2 separate regions of the Homo sapiens genome follow, and region 2 is linked to region 1. Evidence: fine-mapped expression QTL. A gene starts in region 1. The other region holds a variant in brackets. All regions are shown on one strand. Distances are between the middles of the regions. Region 1 holds the start of KIF1C (kinesin family member 1C). Region 2 holds the start of LOC105371501 (a long non-coding RNA gene).

The links. PIP is the estimated chance that this variant, and not a neighbour inherited with it, causes the effect.
Region 2: its variant is fine-mapped to the expression of KIF1C in whole blood (TOPMed, PIP 0.91).

The regions. Positions count from the first base shown.
Region 1 is chr17:4,993,366-5,001,365 of GRCh38, reverse strand. It overlaps KIF1C (kinesin family member 1C), which reads right to left and starts at 3,416. Exons shown (of 23, transcript NM_006612.6): 1 at 3,210-3,416; 2 at 1,396-1,516; 3 at 1,014-1,146; 4 at 518-594; 5 at 1-144. The coding sequence starts at 1,119. It overlaps INCA1 (inhibitor of CDK, cyclin A1 interacting protein 1), which reads left to right and starts at 3,844. Exons shown (of 7, transcript NM_001394789.1): 1 at 3,844-3,870; 2 at 6,891-6,972. The coding sequence starts at 6,929. RefSeq lists enhancers at 489-1,099, 1,100-1,711 and silencers at 2,954-3,053, 3,104-3,973, 4,014-4,103.
Region 2 is chr17:5,025,137-5,035,054 of GRCh38, reverse strand. KIF1C (kinesin family member 1C) reads right to left here. Exons shown (of 23, transcript NM_006612.6): 23 at 6,654-9,918. SLC52A1 (solute carrier family 52 member 1) reads left to right here. Exons shown (of 5, transcript NM_017986.4): 1 at 1-194; 2 at 342-578; 3 at 697-1,576; 4 at 1,671-1,794; 5 at 1,886-2,453. The coding sequence starts at 449. The coding sequence ends at 2,098. It overlaps LOC105371501 (a long non-coding RNA gene), which reads right to left and starts at 4,249. Exons shown (of 4, transcript XR_002958101.2): 1 at 4,158-4,249; 2 at 3,884-4,034; 3 at 3,386-3,481. RefSeq lists an enhancer at 3,138-3,277 and a silencer at 3,298-3,387. The variant G/A (reference allele first, on the strand shown) is at 3,928.

The sequences.
Region 1 (8,000 bases):
CCCCATCATGGTATAGGATTTCCCAGCCCCGGTCTGCCCATAGGCAAAGATGCACACGTTGTAGCCTTCAAAGGCGTGGAGCAGCATCTCTTCTCCAATGTCCCGATACACTTGCTGCTGAGATGCAAACTGGGGGTCCTCCGTCTAGGAGAAAGTGGGGGCAGAGAAAAACAGAGTAACCCTGGATGTCTTTATCCTTTGTGTCTCTGTCCCAAGAGTCTTGCTTCCATCACTGACGATTCCCCAAATGTCCTGTGTGCCCTCCCACCCTCATCATTGTCCTTACCACCCCAAGGATCCTATCCAGCCCCTGCTAGTCCTAATTACCCCAAGGGATTCCGCCTTCCTGTCGAGGCCTCAATCACAGCCTAAGGGTCCTACCACCCCCACCCAGGATCATCCTCCCAATTCACCCTGACTAATCCCCTGGGGGTCCTATTTCTTAACATGTCCCCTCCCCAGGACCTAAATCCTCTGTCTCTCACTGCCTTGCTCTTCCCCCAGCCCAACAACCCACCGAAGTGTGTGACCAGTAGGAGTAGTCAAAGGTGAAGCTTTTGGGGGCATCCTTGCTCTGTTTAGGATTGATGATGGCTGAGGGGCAGGAGAGGGTAAAGGAAGGAAAGTCAAGGTCAGGTATTCCCAGTCCCTGCCCATACCCCAACCAGCCCCTGGAATCCAAGCATCCCACTCCTCACCACTGTCCTGACTCTTCTCTCCCCTTTAACATTCCCCACCCCCTCCAGCCACCAAAGCTAATTTTGGCTTCCTAGGACCCGCCCCCACTGAGCTGCCTCCCTGGATTGGGCAATGGAGGGCTCCAGGCCAACATTCCCCCTCCCAGGGACTGGGAACACGGGAAAGGCCAGCCTGCCCCAGCCCCCGCCCTTACGACTAGCACCTGCTCTGTGCCCAGCATTACCCTCCTCTTAGTTTGGCCCAGCGGGACTGGCCTGTGTGGTGGGCCCGGCCTTCCCTGCCTGTGCCCAGCCAGGCCCCGGGGACTCACTCACAGGTGGTGTTGCCCTGCATGCTGACCACACACTTGGCATCCTGGCTGGTCTCACGGGCGTTAAAGGGCCGAACCCTCACTGCCACTTTCACCGAGGCACCAGCCATAGCTCCAGACACTCCTGCCCTCCTCAGCTGGAGGACAGAGAAAGGAGTGGTGGGGTCAGAACCACTGCAGGGACCCAGACATTGCCTCCCAGCTTCTTCCCGGAACCAGTCTCTTCACATCTCCCCCAGAGCCACCCAGCCTCTCAAGGACCCAGCTCTTATTCCCTTGGCTTTCCTCCCAAATGTCACTGTCTTGAGAGACTCCCAAAGGTATTTCTGCCTCTCTCCCCAGCCATATTCCAGCTTGCAGGAACCTGGGCGGTCTCCCCCAGTTACCTGGCGTCCTGGCCCCAGACCAGGGGGGCTGTATCAGTTCTGGCTGCCACCGGCCCTCGTAGGGGGAGCCCCATCCTACTCCTGGGGCCTGGCCACACCAGCTGGGGCTCTGGGAGATACCCTGATTGCGGGGGAAGAGTTGTTAGAAGGCACCTGTGGTTCCAGAGACCCGTCTGGGGTTCCCAGGTTGGAGGGCCAAGGTTACGGGGGGAATAGCAGGAAAAGTACGGACAGCTGCCCCTCTAGAGTGGCTGAATGCAATGTGAATCCAAGGGCAGGGACGGTGATATTTTTATTCCTTGTCACTCGCAAATGTACTGAACGTTCAGATAGAGGACAGAGAGAGAAAGAGGCTGGACAGAGGGCAATTCAGAGAGAGGGGCACATGGGCAGAGACGTGAGGGGGGTGGGAAGAGAGAGAGGAGGGGCAGAGAGTCACAGACACCAAGAAAATTAGAGAAATAAGACAAAAGGCAAGCCTGAGGTCATGCTATGAAGGAAAGAATGGGAGAGGAAAGGAGGAAGAGACACAGCACAGCAAACACACGGTGTTAAAGAGACAGGGTGGGGAACTCCGGCGCCAAAGCACAAACTGGGAGCCCAGAAGAGAGACCAGAGAGGAAACTGCAAATGCAAAACCTGTCCTCAAATTCCCCCACAGTGTCGGCAAGGGAGAATCTAGTTTCCACCTGAGGCCCACAACCTCCATGCACCAGGCCAGTAGTGCAGATGGGCAAAGTCCAAGGACTGTAGGTAGGGCCCAGGACTGGGATCCACAGGGCCAGCTGTGTGGGCTCTAAGCCCCTTGCCCAGCCCCCAGCACTTCCTCCTCAGGATCCGGGACAATGAGCAGGGGAGGGTGGGGTCATCCTGTAGCCATCAGACCAACCCTCAGGGCTCCACCCTTGGGGCGCCCAGAAATACCTGTGTTTGAGGGTAGAGGGTCCCTGGGGCCTCCCTAAAAGGGAGAAAGAAAAGGAAGCCGGCTGGCTGGTGCCAGCCCCAACCTGGGGCTAGTGCTATGGCGTCCACTGCCCTGGGGAAGGTGCCAGGCTGGAGCCCAGGAATGTGGGTGATCGGGTGCCCACACCCTGGGAGGAGAGGCTGAGCAGCCCACGCCCACGGACAACAGGGAGGAGGACCACGAAGGATAAGGGATGCGGAGCCCCCTCCTGTGGCCCCAGTGGACCCCAAACTCCTGTCACGCTGGGCCTCCCCTCACCAGTCTTCCTGGGCAGAGCATGGGAGGGTGAGGGGCTGGTCTGTCCCAGGACAGGAAGGGAGTAGCTGGAATCACAGAAGCTGGCTCAGGAAGAACAGCCCTGACCCCCTAGACCCTGACCAGGGGAGGGAAGGACACTGGTGGGGACAAGCGATGGTGACGCCGTTGCTGCAGCTAATGGGACAGGGATGGGGTGGCACGGCTGGGGGCCAGCGGGGTAAGGGAATAGAGGTAGGGACAGGGGTCGGCCGGTGCAGCTGTGAAGGAGCCGTGGGGTACAAGGAGGATACTGGGCGGCTGGGGTGGGGCCGACCGGCCCGAAAGGGGGTCTTGGGCCACCTGCACCTTGCCCACCCGGCGGTTCTCACACAGGTCCCCGCCCGGCCTCTCAGGGCGGCCATGCGGACCCGTCCTCCTGTCCAGCCAGCCGGCGGCCGCCCGGGCCTGGCACCTCTCTGCGCCTCCGCGGAACAAACAGCACATGATCCCGACTCTTGAGCCTAGATCGCGCCGCCGGACCCCGGCTCCCCGCCCCCCAACCCGGCACATTCCTCCGCGGGCGTCCCTTCCCTCCCCCTTCCCCAGCCCTCACCTCGGCGCGGCGGGGCTCCCGGAGCAGCTCGGCGGAGAGGGACAAGCTTTCCGGGAAGCGTGAGGCGGAAGCGGGAAGGATCTGGGGCCGGTTCGGAGCTGCCCCCGCCCCTCGCCGGGTGCCCGGGCGGCGGGCGGCGGACTCGCGCCCCGGGGGCGGCAGCAGTAGCGGCGCCAGCGGCCGGCGCCCGCCCGGGCAGCGCGAGCTGGGGCGGGAGCGAGGGGCGGGGGACGCGCGAGCGCGCGCGGAGGGGCGGGTACGCGCGGTCCCGGGAAGGAGCCGGGAGCGACCCGGGCTACTCTTGTTAAAGGGGCAACGCTCCTGGCCTGTGGGGCCCAGCGAGCGGGAACGTGGGGACCGAGCTGCGGACGCAGAAGGGCGAGCAGACGCCGCAACCCAGGAGGGTTGCAGACGCCTGAAGAACAGGGAAACGTCGGGGGCTGACCCGCGGGGGCACCCAGGCCCCGGCCCAGTTCCCGTCGCCGCCGTTGGAGGCGCGTCCAGGGGGCGGAGCCTCCTGCCGAGGCCCGCCCAGAAGGTGGCTCCGCTCAGGCCCCGCCCTCAGACGAGCACCGCCCGCCGGCTCCTCCCGCGGCTCGAATCGCCGTCTCTCTCCTCCCCGCCCCGCCGAGTTCTAGAATTCGCCGCGCAGCTGCTTCAGGTGCTGGGGCCAAATGCGGCCGGCCGTGGCGCGGCTACTCGGGCGCTCTGTCCCCGCCTGGCCCTCAAGTTCGGCCGCCCTGGACGCCGCCTGAGGCCCAAACAACCCCTTCAGGCCCGGGTGCCGCCTAAGGCCGGAGCTGCCCTCTCAGACCCGGGGCGTCCCTCAGGCCCCAGCCTGCCCTTCAGCCTGGGCCCACCACCTCAGGGCCCCTCTCGAGGGAAGCAGCCCCCAGTCGTGCCCTCGGGCGGGGCTGCCCGGAAGGTCCGGCCACGCCCGGTCCACCTGTCGAGGGTCCCCGTCGCCCTTTCAGGCGCAGGCCGCGCCCTCCGGCCCGGCGCTTCCCTCCAGCGGGGCTCCAGGCAGCCCCTCAGCCCCAGCCGGACCCTCGGGTCCTCATCCACCCTCGCAGGCGCAGGCCGTGGCTACCCCGAAGTCAACTGTGGAGGATCCTTCCTGGCTTCCTTCAGCTCCATCCTGCCCTTGGATCTAGGTCACCCGCTTGGACCCAACTATCTGAGGCCCGAATGCCCCGCAGCTCCCGCTGCTCCCTCGCGTTCTGCTGACCCCCCTCCGAGTCAGGACATCCCCTTTAGACCCCACTTTAGGCCCTTTCAGCCCAACTCCAACTAGCCCCATCTGCCGCTTCCGCACGGTATACTTCTCTCCGCTTTTGACCTCACCTGCTTTCCCAGCCCATCCCTAGTTCCCTTGGATAAATACTAGTTCACCTCTACAGTTCCAGCTGGCTGCTTCTGTCCTTCGGGAGCCTATGTGCACTCTCTCCTAACTTATCTAGTATTCTTTTTTTTTTTTTTTTTTTTTTTTTGAGACGGAGTCTTGCTCTGTTGCCCAGGCTGACCTCGGCTCACGGCAACCTCCGCCTCCTGGGTTCAAGCGATTCTCCTGCCTCAGCCTCCCGAATAGCTGGGATTACAGATGCCTGCCACCACACCCGGCTAATTTTTGTATTTTTAGTAGAGACTGGGTTTCGCTGTGTTGGCCAGGCTGGTCTCGAACTCCTGACCTCAAGTGATCCGCCCACCTCAGCCTCCCAAAGTGCTGGGATTACAGTCTTGAGCCACCGCGCCTGGCTTTTTTTTTTTTCTTCTTAGAAACAGGGTCTCACTCTGACGCCTAGGCTGGAGTGCAGTGCAGTGGTGCGATCTTACCTCACTGCAGCCTTGACCTCCCGGGCTCAGATGACACTCCCACCTCAGCCTTCCGGGTACAAGCGCACACCACCACACCTGGCTAAACTTTTTCGTATTTTGGTAAAGAGGGGGTTTCGCCATGTTGCCCAGGCTGGTCTCAAACTCCTGGGCTCGAGCAATCCACCCACTTCCGCCTCCCAAATTGCTGGGATTACAGGCGTGAGCCAGTGTGCCCAGCCTTAACTGCCCTTTCTCCCCACCCCAACTGGCCTTCAGGTCATCTTTGGCTGTCCCTATATGCAACTGACCTCCCTATCCACAGGCATTCCCAACTGCCCCCTCCTTCCCTGTCACCAGTTGACCATTATGTCCACACTTAACTTTTTTTAATTTCTTTTTTTATTTTGTTAGAGACAGAGTTTCACTCTTGTTGCACAGACTGGAGTGCAATGGCGCGATCTCAACTCACCGCAACCTCTGCCTCCCTGGTTCAAGCAATTCTCCTGCCTCAGCCTCCTGAGTAGCTGGGATTACAGGCATGTGCCACCATGCCCGGCTAATTTTTGTATTTTTTAGTAGAGACAGGGTTTCTCCATGTTGGTCAGACTGGTCTCGAACTCCCGACCTCAGGTGATCCACCCGCCTCAGCCTCCCAAAGTGCTGGGATTACAGGCGTGAGCCACCACACCCAGCCAACTTTTTTTTTTTAAATAGAGATGACGTCTCTCTGTATTGCCCAGGCTGGTCTCCAACTCCTGAGCTCAGGCAATTCTCTTGCCCCAGCCCCGCAAAGTGCTGGGATTACAGGTGTGAGCCACTGCACCCGGCCCACACAATTAACTTTCACTAACCACTCATAGTTGATTCATTGAGAACCCTCAATTCTGTCACTTCTCTTACCCCCAAATGCCTCCACCCCACCCAGTCTCCACTGTCATCATTTTTCAATTTCATTGTCCCATATTGCCAGTTGTCGCTTAACTGCCATCTGTAAATTTCACTTATTCTGCACATTTAGCTTCAGAAGATTTGCTTTCTCCTTTATCTTTTTACCACATCCACTTTTCCTGTGCTCACTATCTTCAACCTAAATGTTCAATTAACAGTCCAGCACTACAAATACCTTTTTTTTTTTTTTGAGACAGAGTCTTGCTCTGTTGCCAGTCTGGAGTGCAGTGGTGCAATTTCAGCTCACTGCAACTTCCTACTCCCTGGTTCAAGTGATTCTTCTGCCTCAGCCTCCGGAGTAGCTGGGATTACAGGCATGCGCCACCATGCCCAGCTAATTTTGTATTTTTAGTAGAGACGGGGTTTCTCCATGTTGGTCAGACTGGTCTCGAACTCCCAACCTCAGGTGATCTGCCTGCCTCGGCCTCCCAAAGGGCTGGGATTACAGGCATAAGCCACTGCGCCCAGCCGCTACAAATACCTTTTAAGCTCTCTCTTTTTTCAGCATCCATACATTCTTTTTCCATTCTCTAGATCTGCTACTGGCCTCATCCCTACAGACATTATATGAATGAATGCCTTTTTTTTTTTTTTTTTTTTTTTTGAGACAGAGTCTTGCTCTGTCCCCCAGGCTGGAGTGCAGTGGCGCGATCTCGGCTCACTGCAACCTCCGCCTCCCAGGTTCAAGCGATTCTTCTGCCTCAGCTTTCTGGGTAGCTGGGACTATAGGCGCGCGCCACCACACCCGACTAATGTTTGTATTTTTAGCAGAGATGGGGTTTCACTATATTGGCCAGGCTGGTCTTGAACTCCTGACCTCATGATCCGCCCGCCTTGGCCTCCAAAAGTACTGGGATTACAGGCGTGAGCCACCACATCCAGCCCGAATGAATGACTTCTTTTCCATTATCCTCCCAGCACCAAAAAGGAGACTAACTACCCAGCCCCGTCCAGTCATGCAGGTGCAGGATGATGGAGTCAACCTCATCCCCTTTGCCAAGTGAGTCCTCCCACTGGGTGGGGAGCATGGGGATGGGATGGAGGGGATATTGCATGCCTGGGTCCTTCCCTAAGAGGATTAGGAAATAAAGAACGGGAAATGCAATGCCTGGTCTCAGGGGATTGATGATTCATTAATTTATTCAACAAATAGTTTGAACACTACAATGTTCCAGGGACTGTATTAGGCACTGGGGATTCAGCAACTAGCAGGATAGGGGTCCTGCTCTTGTAGAGCTTACATTCTAGAGAGGGGAACACAGAATGTGCAAACAAATACAATTTCAGCTAATGATGGGTACTATTTAAAACATAAAACAGTGGGCCAGGTGTGGTGGCTCACTCCTGTAATCCCAGCACTTTGGGAGGCCGAGGCAGGCGGATCACCTGAGATCAGGAGTTCGAGACCAGCCTGGCCAACATGACAAAACCCCATCTCTACTAGAAATACAAAAATTAGCCAGGCATGGTGGTGCTCGCCTGTAATCCCAGCTACTTGGGAGGCTGAGGCATGAGAATTGCTTGAACCCAGGAGGCAGGGGTTGCAGTGAGCCAAGATTGTGCCACTGCACTCCAGCCTGGGCGACAGAACAAGACTCCATCTCAAAAAAAAAAAAAAAAAAAAAAGGCCAGGCACGGTGGCTCACACCTGTAATCCCAGCACTTTGGGAGGCCGAGGTGGGTGGATCACGAGGTCAGGAGATCAAGACCATCCTGGCTAACAAAGTGAAACTCGTGTCTACTAAAAATACAAAAAAATTAGCCGGGTGTGGTGGCGGGCGCCTGTAGTCCCAGCTACTCGGGAGGCTGAGGCAGGAGAATGGCGTGAACCCAGGAGGCGGACCTTGCAATGAGCCGAGATCACACCACTGCACTCCAGCCTGAGTGACAAAGCGAGACTCCGTCTCAAAAAAAAAGGCCGGGCCCAATGGCTCATGCCATAATCTCAGCACTTTGGAAGGCTGAGGTGGGCAGATCACCTGAGGTTGGGAGTTTGAGACCAGCCTGACCAACATGGAGAAACCCCAT
Region 2 (9,918 bases), 33 kb before region 1:
ATTACAGGTGTGAGCCACCGCACCCGGCCAGTGCTGAGCTGTTTTGACAACTTGGACCCCGGGTCCTCTGTGGGTAGGAAAATCAGCTCCCTCTTTGCTCCTCTGGGGCAGCTGCACCTCGGGCCAGCTTTCTGCCTGTCTGCCTGCCGGCACTGCTGGGTCGCTGTACCCAAACGCACAGCCGGTGCCCCGTGGTAAGTCCTGGCTCCCCACCTTCCCCGCCCGCCCCCGGCCACCTCTCCCTCCAGTTGCCCTGGTCTTAGCAGTCTGACCGACTTGTCTTCTGACTCCGGTTCTGTCCCACCAGCCTATTACCTGCCAGCCTGTCTGTTTCCCTCCAGCTAGAAGGTCTTCAGTTTCCAGAAGAACCAAAGCATCTTTGGACCTACCTAGGGAAGGACCTGCCTGTGACCTTTGCCCTGTCCTGGAGGGTCCAGCTTTGGGCTGAATGGCAGCACCCACGCTGGGCCGTCTGGTGCTGACCCACCTGCTGGTGGCCCTTTTTGGCATGGGCTCCTGGGCTGCTGTGAACGGGATCTGGGTGGAGCTGCCTGTGGTGGTAAAAGACCTTCCAGAGGGTGAGTGGGAGGGAGGTACAGGGAAGCGTGGGGCAGGTATGCCCAGAAAGGTGGCCTGTGGCAGCTCTTTGTCCCTTAGCCACTGTGCTCCTGACATGGCATCATTCCTTCCCTGCAGGTTGGAGCCTCCCCTCATACCTCTCTGTGGTTGTGGCGCTGGGAAACCTGGGTCTGCTGGTGGTGACCCTGTGGAGGCAGCTGGCCCCGGGCAAGGGCGAGCAGGTCCCCATCCAGGTGGTACAGGTGCTGAGTGTAGTGGGCACAGCCCTGCTGGCCCCTCTGTGGCACCACGTGGCCCCAGTGGCAGGGCAGCTCCACTCTGTGGCCTTCCTAACTCTGGCCTTGGTGTTGGCAATGGCCTGTTGTACCTCTAATGTCACTTTCCTGCCCTTCCTGAGCCACCTGCCACCTCCTTTCTTACGGTCTTTCTTCCTGGGTCAGGGTCTCAGTGCCCTACTCCCCTGTGTGCTGGCCCTAGTGCAAGGTGTGGGCCGCCTCGAGTGCCCACCAGCGCCCACCAATGGCACCTCTGGGCCTCCCCTCGACTTCCCTGAGCGTTTTCCTGCCAGCACCTTCTTCTGGGCACTGACTGCCCTTCTGGTCACTTCAGCTGCCGCCTTCCGGGGTCTCCTGTTGCTGTTGCCATCACTACCCTCTGTAACCACAGGGGGCTCAGGGCCTGAACTTCAACTGGGATCCCCAGGAGCAGAGGAGGAAGAGAAGGAGGAAGAAGAGGCTTTGCCATTGCAGGAGCCACCGAGCCAGGCAGCAGGCACCATCCCTGGCCCAGACCCTGAGGCCCATCAGCTGTTCTCAGCCCATGGTGCCTTCCTGCTGGGCCTGATGGCCTTCACCAGTGCCGTGACCAATGGCGTGCTGCCTTCTGTGCAGAGCTTTTCCTGTTTGCCCTATGGGCGCCTGGCCTACCACCTGGCTGTGGTGCTGGGCAGTGCCGCCAACCCCCTTGCCTGCTTCCTGGCCATGGGCGTGCTGTGCAGGTGCAAAAGGGTCCCCAGGCTTGGTGGGTGGAACTTAAGGTTGGGGTCCAGGTCCCAGAACAGCCAGCCCTGAGTCTCTGCTCATCCCCAACAGGTCCCTGGCAGGGCTGGTTGGTCTTTCTCTGCTGGGCATGCTCTTTGGGGCCTACCTGATGGCACTGGCAATCCTGAGCCCCTGCCCACCCCTGGTGGGCACCACTGCAGGGGTGGTCCTTGTGGTGAGCAAGTGGAGACATGAAGTGGGGAGGAGGGTGTCCCCTGGAGCAAGTGCATGTCATGCTCAGCCTGCTGCTGTGTCCTCCCTTGCAGGTGCTGTCGTGGGTGCTGTGTCTGTGTGTGTTCTCATATGTGAAGGTGGCTGCAAGCTCCCTGCTGCATGGTGGGGGTCGGCCGGCATTGCTGGCAGCTGGTGTGGCCATCCAAGTGGGCTCCCTGCTTGGTGCCGGTGCCATGTTCCCTCCCACCAGCATCTACCACGTGTTTCAAAGCAGAAAGGACTGTGTAGACCCCTGTGGCCCCTGAGCCTGGGCAGGTGGGGACCCAACTCCACCCCACCTGTCTTCATCGTGAGGCTGCCACAGTGCCTGACTACTTGTGGCCCAGGCAGGCTTCCCCCAACACAGGAACGCTCATGGACACCTGCACACTCCACAGAAGACGTTGGCATGTGAGGCCAGGGTGGGCACCAAAGACCAGGCCCAGAGCCAGGGGACAGGTTGGGGCTGTGGGCTTGGACCCAGGGCCTGAGACCTTTGTGGGATTTGTGCAATAAAGTGTTTTTATTTAAAACCAAAAACAAAAACAAAAGCCTAATGAAAACCTTATAAGAAATATATAATGAAATCAGGAAACTGGATTAAATAATTTTTCATACATATATTATCTAGTGTGCAATTAGATTTAAATACAGATTGTAGTGCCTTTCTTATATCCACAGCTTATCTCTTCTTCTGTGGGTTTTCTTGTCAAAAACCTTTCTTACTCAAGTGAGTCTCTGTCATTTGCTATGGGATTGGCCTTTAAAGACAACGGAGTCTCACTCTGTTGCTCAGGCTGGAGTGCAGTGGTGCAATCTCGGCTCACTGCAACCTCTGCCTCCCGGGTTCAAGCGATTCTCCTGCCTCAGCCTCCTGAGTAGCTGGGATTACAGGCGTGTGCCACCACGACCGGCTAATTTTGTAATTTTAGTAGAGACGGGGGGTTTCACCATGTTGGTCAGGCTGGTCTCGAACTCCTGACCTCGTGATCCGCCCGCCTTGGCCTCCCAAAGTGCTGGGATTATAGGCGTGAGCCGCCGCGCCCAGTGGAAACATGGATTACTTCAATTTTCTTCCTTCTGCTTTTCTGTATTTGTTAAATTTCAAATAAAGCAAACCCTGATCCAAAACCTCCTCTAATAAGCGGGGATTGTTTCCCCTAAGGTCGATCTACCCCCTAGCACAGTCCCTAAGGCAGAAGAAGCTGCTCAATGAAGGCTTCTCTTCCTTTTCTTTGGAACTCAAGAGCACCCACGAAGGGGAAGAAATGCTAATTCTGAAAGGAGTCAGGTCCTCCCTTCTGAAAAACGAAGATGACAGCTAGTCCTGGGGGAAGAGGAAATCCCCGCAGGGCTCCCGCCCACCTCCGGACCTTCCTCCAGACACGCGGAATACAGAAGCCCAAGCCCGGCGCCGCGTCACCCCAGCCAGCCTTCTGCGCGTGCGCCCTCCCGCCTCGCGCCCCCCGCCCCGCCCGCCTCGCACCTCCCCCACGCCTCGCACCCACCCCCCGGCCTCGCACCCCCACCGCCCGCCCGCCCGGGAGACTCACAGGCGCGCAGGGCCGCAGGGGTCCCCTCGGCCACTCGTTCTCAAGGCTCCGTGAACGCGCAAGCAAAGACGTCCTTCGAGGGAACCTTTTCTCCTCCTGGCGGACAAGAGTGGAACGACAGGGCTTGAGGAGAAGTTTTGCCAGGTTGGGGGTGACATCTTTTGAAACTTGACCTCGTTTTTTATTTTGTTTGTTTGCTTGCTTGCTTGCTTGAGACGGAGTCTCGCTCTATTGCCCAGGCTGGAGTGCAATGGTGCAGTCTCGGCTCACTGCAACCTCCACCTCCTGGGTTCAAGCGATTCTCCTCCCTCAACCTCCCAAGTAGCCGGGATTACAGGTGCCCACCACCATGCCCGTCTAATTTTTGTATTTTTAGTAGAGACGGGCTTTCACCATGTTGGCCAGGCTGGTCTCGAACTCCTGACCTCATGATCCGCCCGCCTCGGTCTCCTAAAGTGCTGGGATTACAGGCGTGAGCCACTGTGCCTGAGACCTCACCTCGTTTTGCAAGCGCCTCTCTTCTTTCTCAAGGCCTCATATCC[G/A]GTTCAGAGTAAAGAAAAAGGGAAGGCACCAACCTTGAGCTCCTAAAATGTGCTAGACCCTTTACATGTATTATCAGTAAATCTTCCCAACAGCTTCATTATTCGTCCTGTTTTGCAGAAAAGGAAATTGAAACTCAGAGAAGGTGACTTACCCAGAGTACCACAGCTAATTAGTGAGACGGCTGGAGCCCAGGTCTGTGTGCTCCAGAGATTCTGACTGCAGCCCTCACCTGTTGGCTCTGGACTTGGAGAAAGGAGAGCTGCTTCTCTGCAGCTGAAGAGGCTCTGCAAGAAGCCCAGAACAGGCAGGGCGCTATAGCTCACGCAGGTAATCCTAGCACTTTGGGAGGCTGAGGTGGGAGGATCACTTGAGCCCATAAGGTTGAGACCAGCCTGGGCAGCATAGCAAGATCACTGTCTCTACAAAAACAAAACAAAACAAAACACAGCCAGAGTCAGGCATGGTGACGCACACCTGTAGTTCCAGCTACTGGGGAGGGTGAGGCAGGAGAATCCCTTGAGCCTAGGAGTTTGAGGCCTCAGTGAACTATAGACCCACCACTGCACTCCACCCTGGGTGACAGAGCAAGACCTTGTCTTTAAGAAACAAAACACAAAACAAAACAAAAACAAAAAAACAGAACAGCTTCCCTGGTCATTTGTAAAGAACCTTTAATGGATTGTACCACAGGGCAAGACTTTCCCAGTTATCTCAAAACATATTCCTTCTCCAGAGATTAAGGTGGGGAGGGCAGGTGGGGGAAGGAATAGGAGGAGTTGAGGTGGAAATTCTCATTGGTGAGGCTGTTGGGGACACAGCAGGATTTGTTTTTTTTTTGTTTTTTTTTTTTTTGAGACTGAGTCTTGCTCTGTCACCCAGGCTGGAGTGCAGTGGCGCAATCTCAGCTCACTGCAACCTCCGCCTCCTGGGTTCAAGCAATTCTGCCTCAGCCTCCTGAGTAGCTGGGATTACAGGTGTGTGCCACTATGCCTAATTTTTATATTTTTAGTAGAGACGGGGGTTTCTCCATGTTGGCCAGGCTGGTCTCGAACTCCTTACCTCAGGTGATCCACCTGCCTTGGCCTCCCAAAGTTCTGGGATTACAGGCATGAGCCACCGCGCCTAGCTGTTGGGGGCATGGCAGGTTAATGTCAGCTCCTACAACTGTGAAATTGTTGAGGGATGAGAGAAGCAGTTTCTACAACTCACATCTAGTGACCAGGCTTTTAGATGAAATGTACTATCCCAATGATGCCACAGTCTCCTCCTGCCTTTCAGTAGAGACAGAAGTGGGTAGCAGGAGTGAGAACACTCCTGTACAAGGCAGAGGCTGCTGGCCTTTGACCTGGAGAGATGGACACTATGCCAACCTTAACTGAGTAGCCGGAGCTGTTAATGAGGCAGCAGAGTACCAGAGGTGCAGGGAGAGCCTGTCAGCCAGATTAAGTAGGATATTTAAAGCCAGCCTGCCTTGGGTAGTGTTTAAAACCTATTGGTACAGGAAGCAGGACCTTAGTGACATCCAGGGGACCACAGACTCTGAAGGAAGAAGATGATGGTGCAAGCGTTGTCTGTGACTTGTCAGGAGTGGCAACCTTTGGGCATGATGAGTGAAACCTATTCACGGTCCACCTGAACCAAAATGGCATCCAGTAGCTATGGACACTAACTCTTTAAAAGGGAAAAGAAGGCTACTTTTAGGGCCAGGTGCGGTGGCTCACGCCTGTAATCCTAGCATTTTGGGAGGCCGAGGCAGGTGGATCACGAGGTTAAGAGATCAAGACCATCCTGGTCAACACGGTAAAACCCCGCCTCTACTAAAAATACAAAAATTAGCCGGACATGGTGGCACGCGCCTGTAATCCCAGCTACTCGGGAGGCTGAGGCAGAAGAATCGCTTGAACCTGGGAGGCAGAGGTTGCAGTCAGCCGAGATTACACCACTGCACTCCAGCCTGGCGACAGAGCAAGGCTCTGTCTCAAAAATAAAATAAAAATAAATTAATAAAATAAAATAAAAGGGAAAAGGTGACTGGCTCACGCCTATAATCCCAGCATTTTGGGAGGCAGACATGGATGGATTGCTTGAGCTCCGAAGTTCCAGATCACCCTGGGCAGCATGACAAAACCCTGCCTCTAGAAAACTACAAAAAATTAGCTGGGCATGGTGGCATGCACCTGCAGTCTCAGCTGCTCAGGAAGCTGAGGTGGGAGGATCACTTGAGCCTGGGAGGTTGAGGCTGTAATAAGCTGTGATGGCACCACTGTACTCCAGCCTGGGCGACAGAGTGAGATTCCTTCTCGAAAATAAATAAAAGTTAAAAAAAAAAAAAAAAAAAAAAGGCCAGGCATGGTGGCTCATGCCTGTAATCCCAATACTTTGGGAGGCTGAGGTGGGCGGATCACTTGAGGTCAGGAGTTCAAGACCAGCCTGGCTAACATGCCAAAACCCCATCTCTACTAAAAATACAAATATTGGTCGGGCATGGTGGCACATGCCTGTAATCCCAGCTACTTGGGAAGCTGAGGCCGGAGAATCGCTTGAACCCGGGAGGCGGAGGTTGCAGCGAGCGGAGATCATGCCACTGCACTCTAGCCTGGGCGACAAGAGCAAAACTCCATCTCAAAAAAAAAAAAAAAAAGGTTGGGGGGAGAACAATTTCAAACCAAACCAAATTTGAAGCTCTGAATATAGAAAGGTATAAATAAGACTGGTGGAGAAAAAATGTATTTGATCCCCAAATTTATTCAAGATACAAAAGTTCCAGGTGACAACAACAACAAAAAACATGTCTAAAAGAATAACCAACATATGTCGGTATGGTGTGAGAAGCTAAAAATAAAATAGTAACCAACAAAAGGAAAGCAGCTCCAAAGAAAGACAATGAAGAAAAGCAAATTAATTTCCAAGAAAACCAAGGATGACAGTGTAGAAATGTCAAGACGGAGTGAGCTAGAAAACTGAGATTGTTTGGGTGACTTCTCATGATTCCAGAGGAGGCCCACGAAATAGCTGCTGTCACTCACAGGACAGCCTGGGCAATTTGAGAGGGAACAGAAACTAGACGCAAGTTCATGAAATGCCTGGGAAGATTGAATTTGAGGAGAAGGCCCCATGGATTCTAAGCGAGGTGATGGTGATGTCTGATGTTCTTTTTATTTTTATATATACATTTTTAAGACAGGGTCTCCTGGTGGTGCAATCACAGGTCACCGCAGCCTTGACCTCCCAGGCTCAAGCGATCCTCCCACCTCAGCCTCCCAAGTAGCTACAGGTGTGAGCCAGTACACCCGGCTAATTTATATATTTTTGTAGAGACAGGGTCTTGTTATGTTGCCCAGGCTGGTCTCAAACTCCTGAGCTCAAACAGTCCTCCCGCCTCCGCCTCCCAAAGTGCTGGGATTACAGACATAAACCACCGCACCCAGCCAATACTTGATGGCCTAGAGGGGTGAGATGGGGTTTGGGCTTTAGTTATGTTGACCTGGGTTGGAATCCTAACTTTGCCACTTAAGAACTGTCTGAATTTGGGCAACTCATTAATCTAAACCAACCTCAGTCTTCAGGAGCCAGGCACGGTGGCACATGCTTGCAGTACCAGCTGCTTGGCTTGGGAGGCAGGATTGCTTGAGCCCAGGAGTTCGAGTTCAGCCTGGGCAACATAGCAAGATCTTGATTCTAAAAAAATAAATAAATAGGCTGGGCGTGGTGGCTCACGCCTGTAATCCCAACATTTTGGGAGGCAGAGGCGGGTGGATCACCTGAGGTCAGGAATTCGAAACCAGCTTGGACAACATAGTGAAACCCTGTCTCTACTAAAGATACAAAAAATTAGCCGGGTGCGGTTGTGGGCGCCTGTAATCCTAGCTACTCAGGAGGCTGAGGCAGGAGAATCGCTTGAACCCAGGAAGCGGAGGTTGTAGTGAGCCAAGATTGTGCCATCGCACTCCAGCCTAGGCAACAGAGCGAGACTCCGTCTCAAAAAATAAATAAATAAAAATAAATAAACAAAACCTCAGTCTTCCCATCTGAAAAATGCAGACAAAAGACCTATTTTACCGGGGTACTTTAAAGACTAAATCAAATGCATATGGAATGCCGGCACAGGTAGCACAGATGAAAAATAAACAGGCACTACTCTGAATAAAATCTAAGTAAAGTTTGCCCACAGTATTATTTTTGATTTTTATTTTTTGTAGAGATGGGGGGGGCAGTCTCACTATGTTGCCCAGGCTGGTCTCAAATTCCTGGCCTCAAGTGATGCTCCCACCCTAATATTCCAAAGTGTTGGGATTACGGGTGTGAGCCACTGTGCCTGGCCCGTGCACATTATTAAAGACTGACTTGGAAGGCTGGATATGTGGATTTTTTTTTTTTTTTTTTTTTGAGAGAGTCCCACTCTTGCCCAGGCCAGAGTGCTGTGGTGCCTTCACAGCTCACCACAGCCTCAATCTCCATGGGCTCAGGTGATCTTCCTACCTCCCTAGTAGCTGGAACTACAGGTACACACCACCACACCCAACTAGTTTTTCTATGTTTTGTAGATACAGGGTTTCACTATGTTGCCCAGGCTGGTCTCGAACTCCTGGACTCAACTGATCCTCCTGCCTCAGCCTCCCAAAGTGCTGGGATTACAGGTGTGAGCTTCTGTGCCCAGCCATAAGTGGATTTTTAAAATTATGGATAATATACATTTACATAAGTCAAGGTCTTTAGGGAAAAATAATCCGTCTTTTAAATTAGCAAGCTATTTTTCTCATCTCAAACCCCACAGCATTCTCGGTAACACTCAACTCAGCTCCCTCTGACCTCCAGAAAACTTGGTATTCTATCATTTTCTTGCTCACATTGAGTCTCCCTGGCCAGATTTTAAACTGCTCAAGCAAACACTGTTGCCAAACCATCCATTACATTCCAGATCTTGAGTCACTGTCAACAGGTCTGTGAAAACCTGGCAGTCAGAGGTGTCAAAGTAAAGGCAGGAGCATCAGGGTGTGGAAACCTAGAGTAAACCTAATCGTTCCTTCGCCCAGAGCCGTGGTTTGGCTGCAGTTGGGATATCTATGGTTTTGGCTGGAGACTGACCCCAGGAAGCTGTGAAGCAGTAGCTCAGAGCTTCAAGTGGGTCAAAGTGTTTTCCTGAGAACAGGATGAAAATGTGGGGACTCCAGAGTCTGGCAAGCCAAAGGCAGTGCTGTAGTACAATCTAACCTGCAAAATCCTGGCAATGTGGCATAGTCAAGGGCTCGCTGCCTCAAGCCAGAACATTAAAACAAGCAGGCAACAAACAGTTTTTTAATTTTTCTTGAAATGGAGTCTCGCTCTGTCGCCCAGGCTGGAGTGCAGTGGCGCAATCTCAGCTCACTGCAAGCTCCGCCTCCCAGGTTCATGCCATTCTCCTGCCTCAGCCTCCTGAGTAGCTGGGACTACAGGCCCCCGCCACCATGCCCGGCTAATTTTTTTATTTTTATTTTTAGTAGAGATGGGGTTTCACCATGATAGCCAGGATGGTCTCGATCTCCTGACCTCGTGATCCACCTGCCTCGGCCTCCCAGTGCTGGCATTACAGGCGTGAACCACTGCGCCTGGCCAACAAACAGTCTTAACACAAATAAAATAACGACTGGGAACAATGATGTAGCCTGCCAGAAGGCAGGTAACACAACCAGGATGAAAACAATCAGGTAAGCGCAGTATGCTTGCCCAACCCATTCACTATCAAGAGAAACTGGCTGCTTGGGAGACCTTTCAAGTAAGTTAGGTGACTTAAAGCAGAACTCCTCTGTACCCCACAAATCCTTCTGTATCTGTCAGCAACAGCCAGTTAAGCATTGACAGGCTGGCGGTCCCTCTACCTCCCCTCGCATCCCCGCTTCTGTGCTTTGTCCATAACAGACAGTGGTGCTGCTGGCACAGACTGAGACACTGGGTAAGCAAACATGAAAGCAGGGGAGGCCGGGCGCGGTGGCTCACACCTGTAATCCCACCAC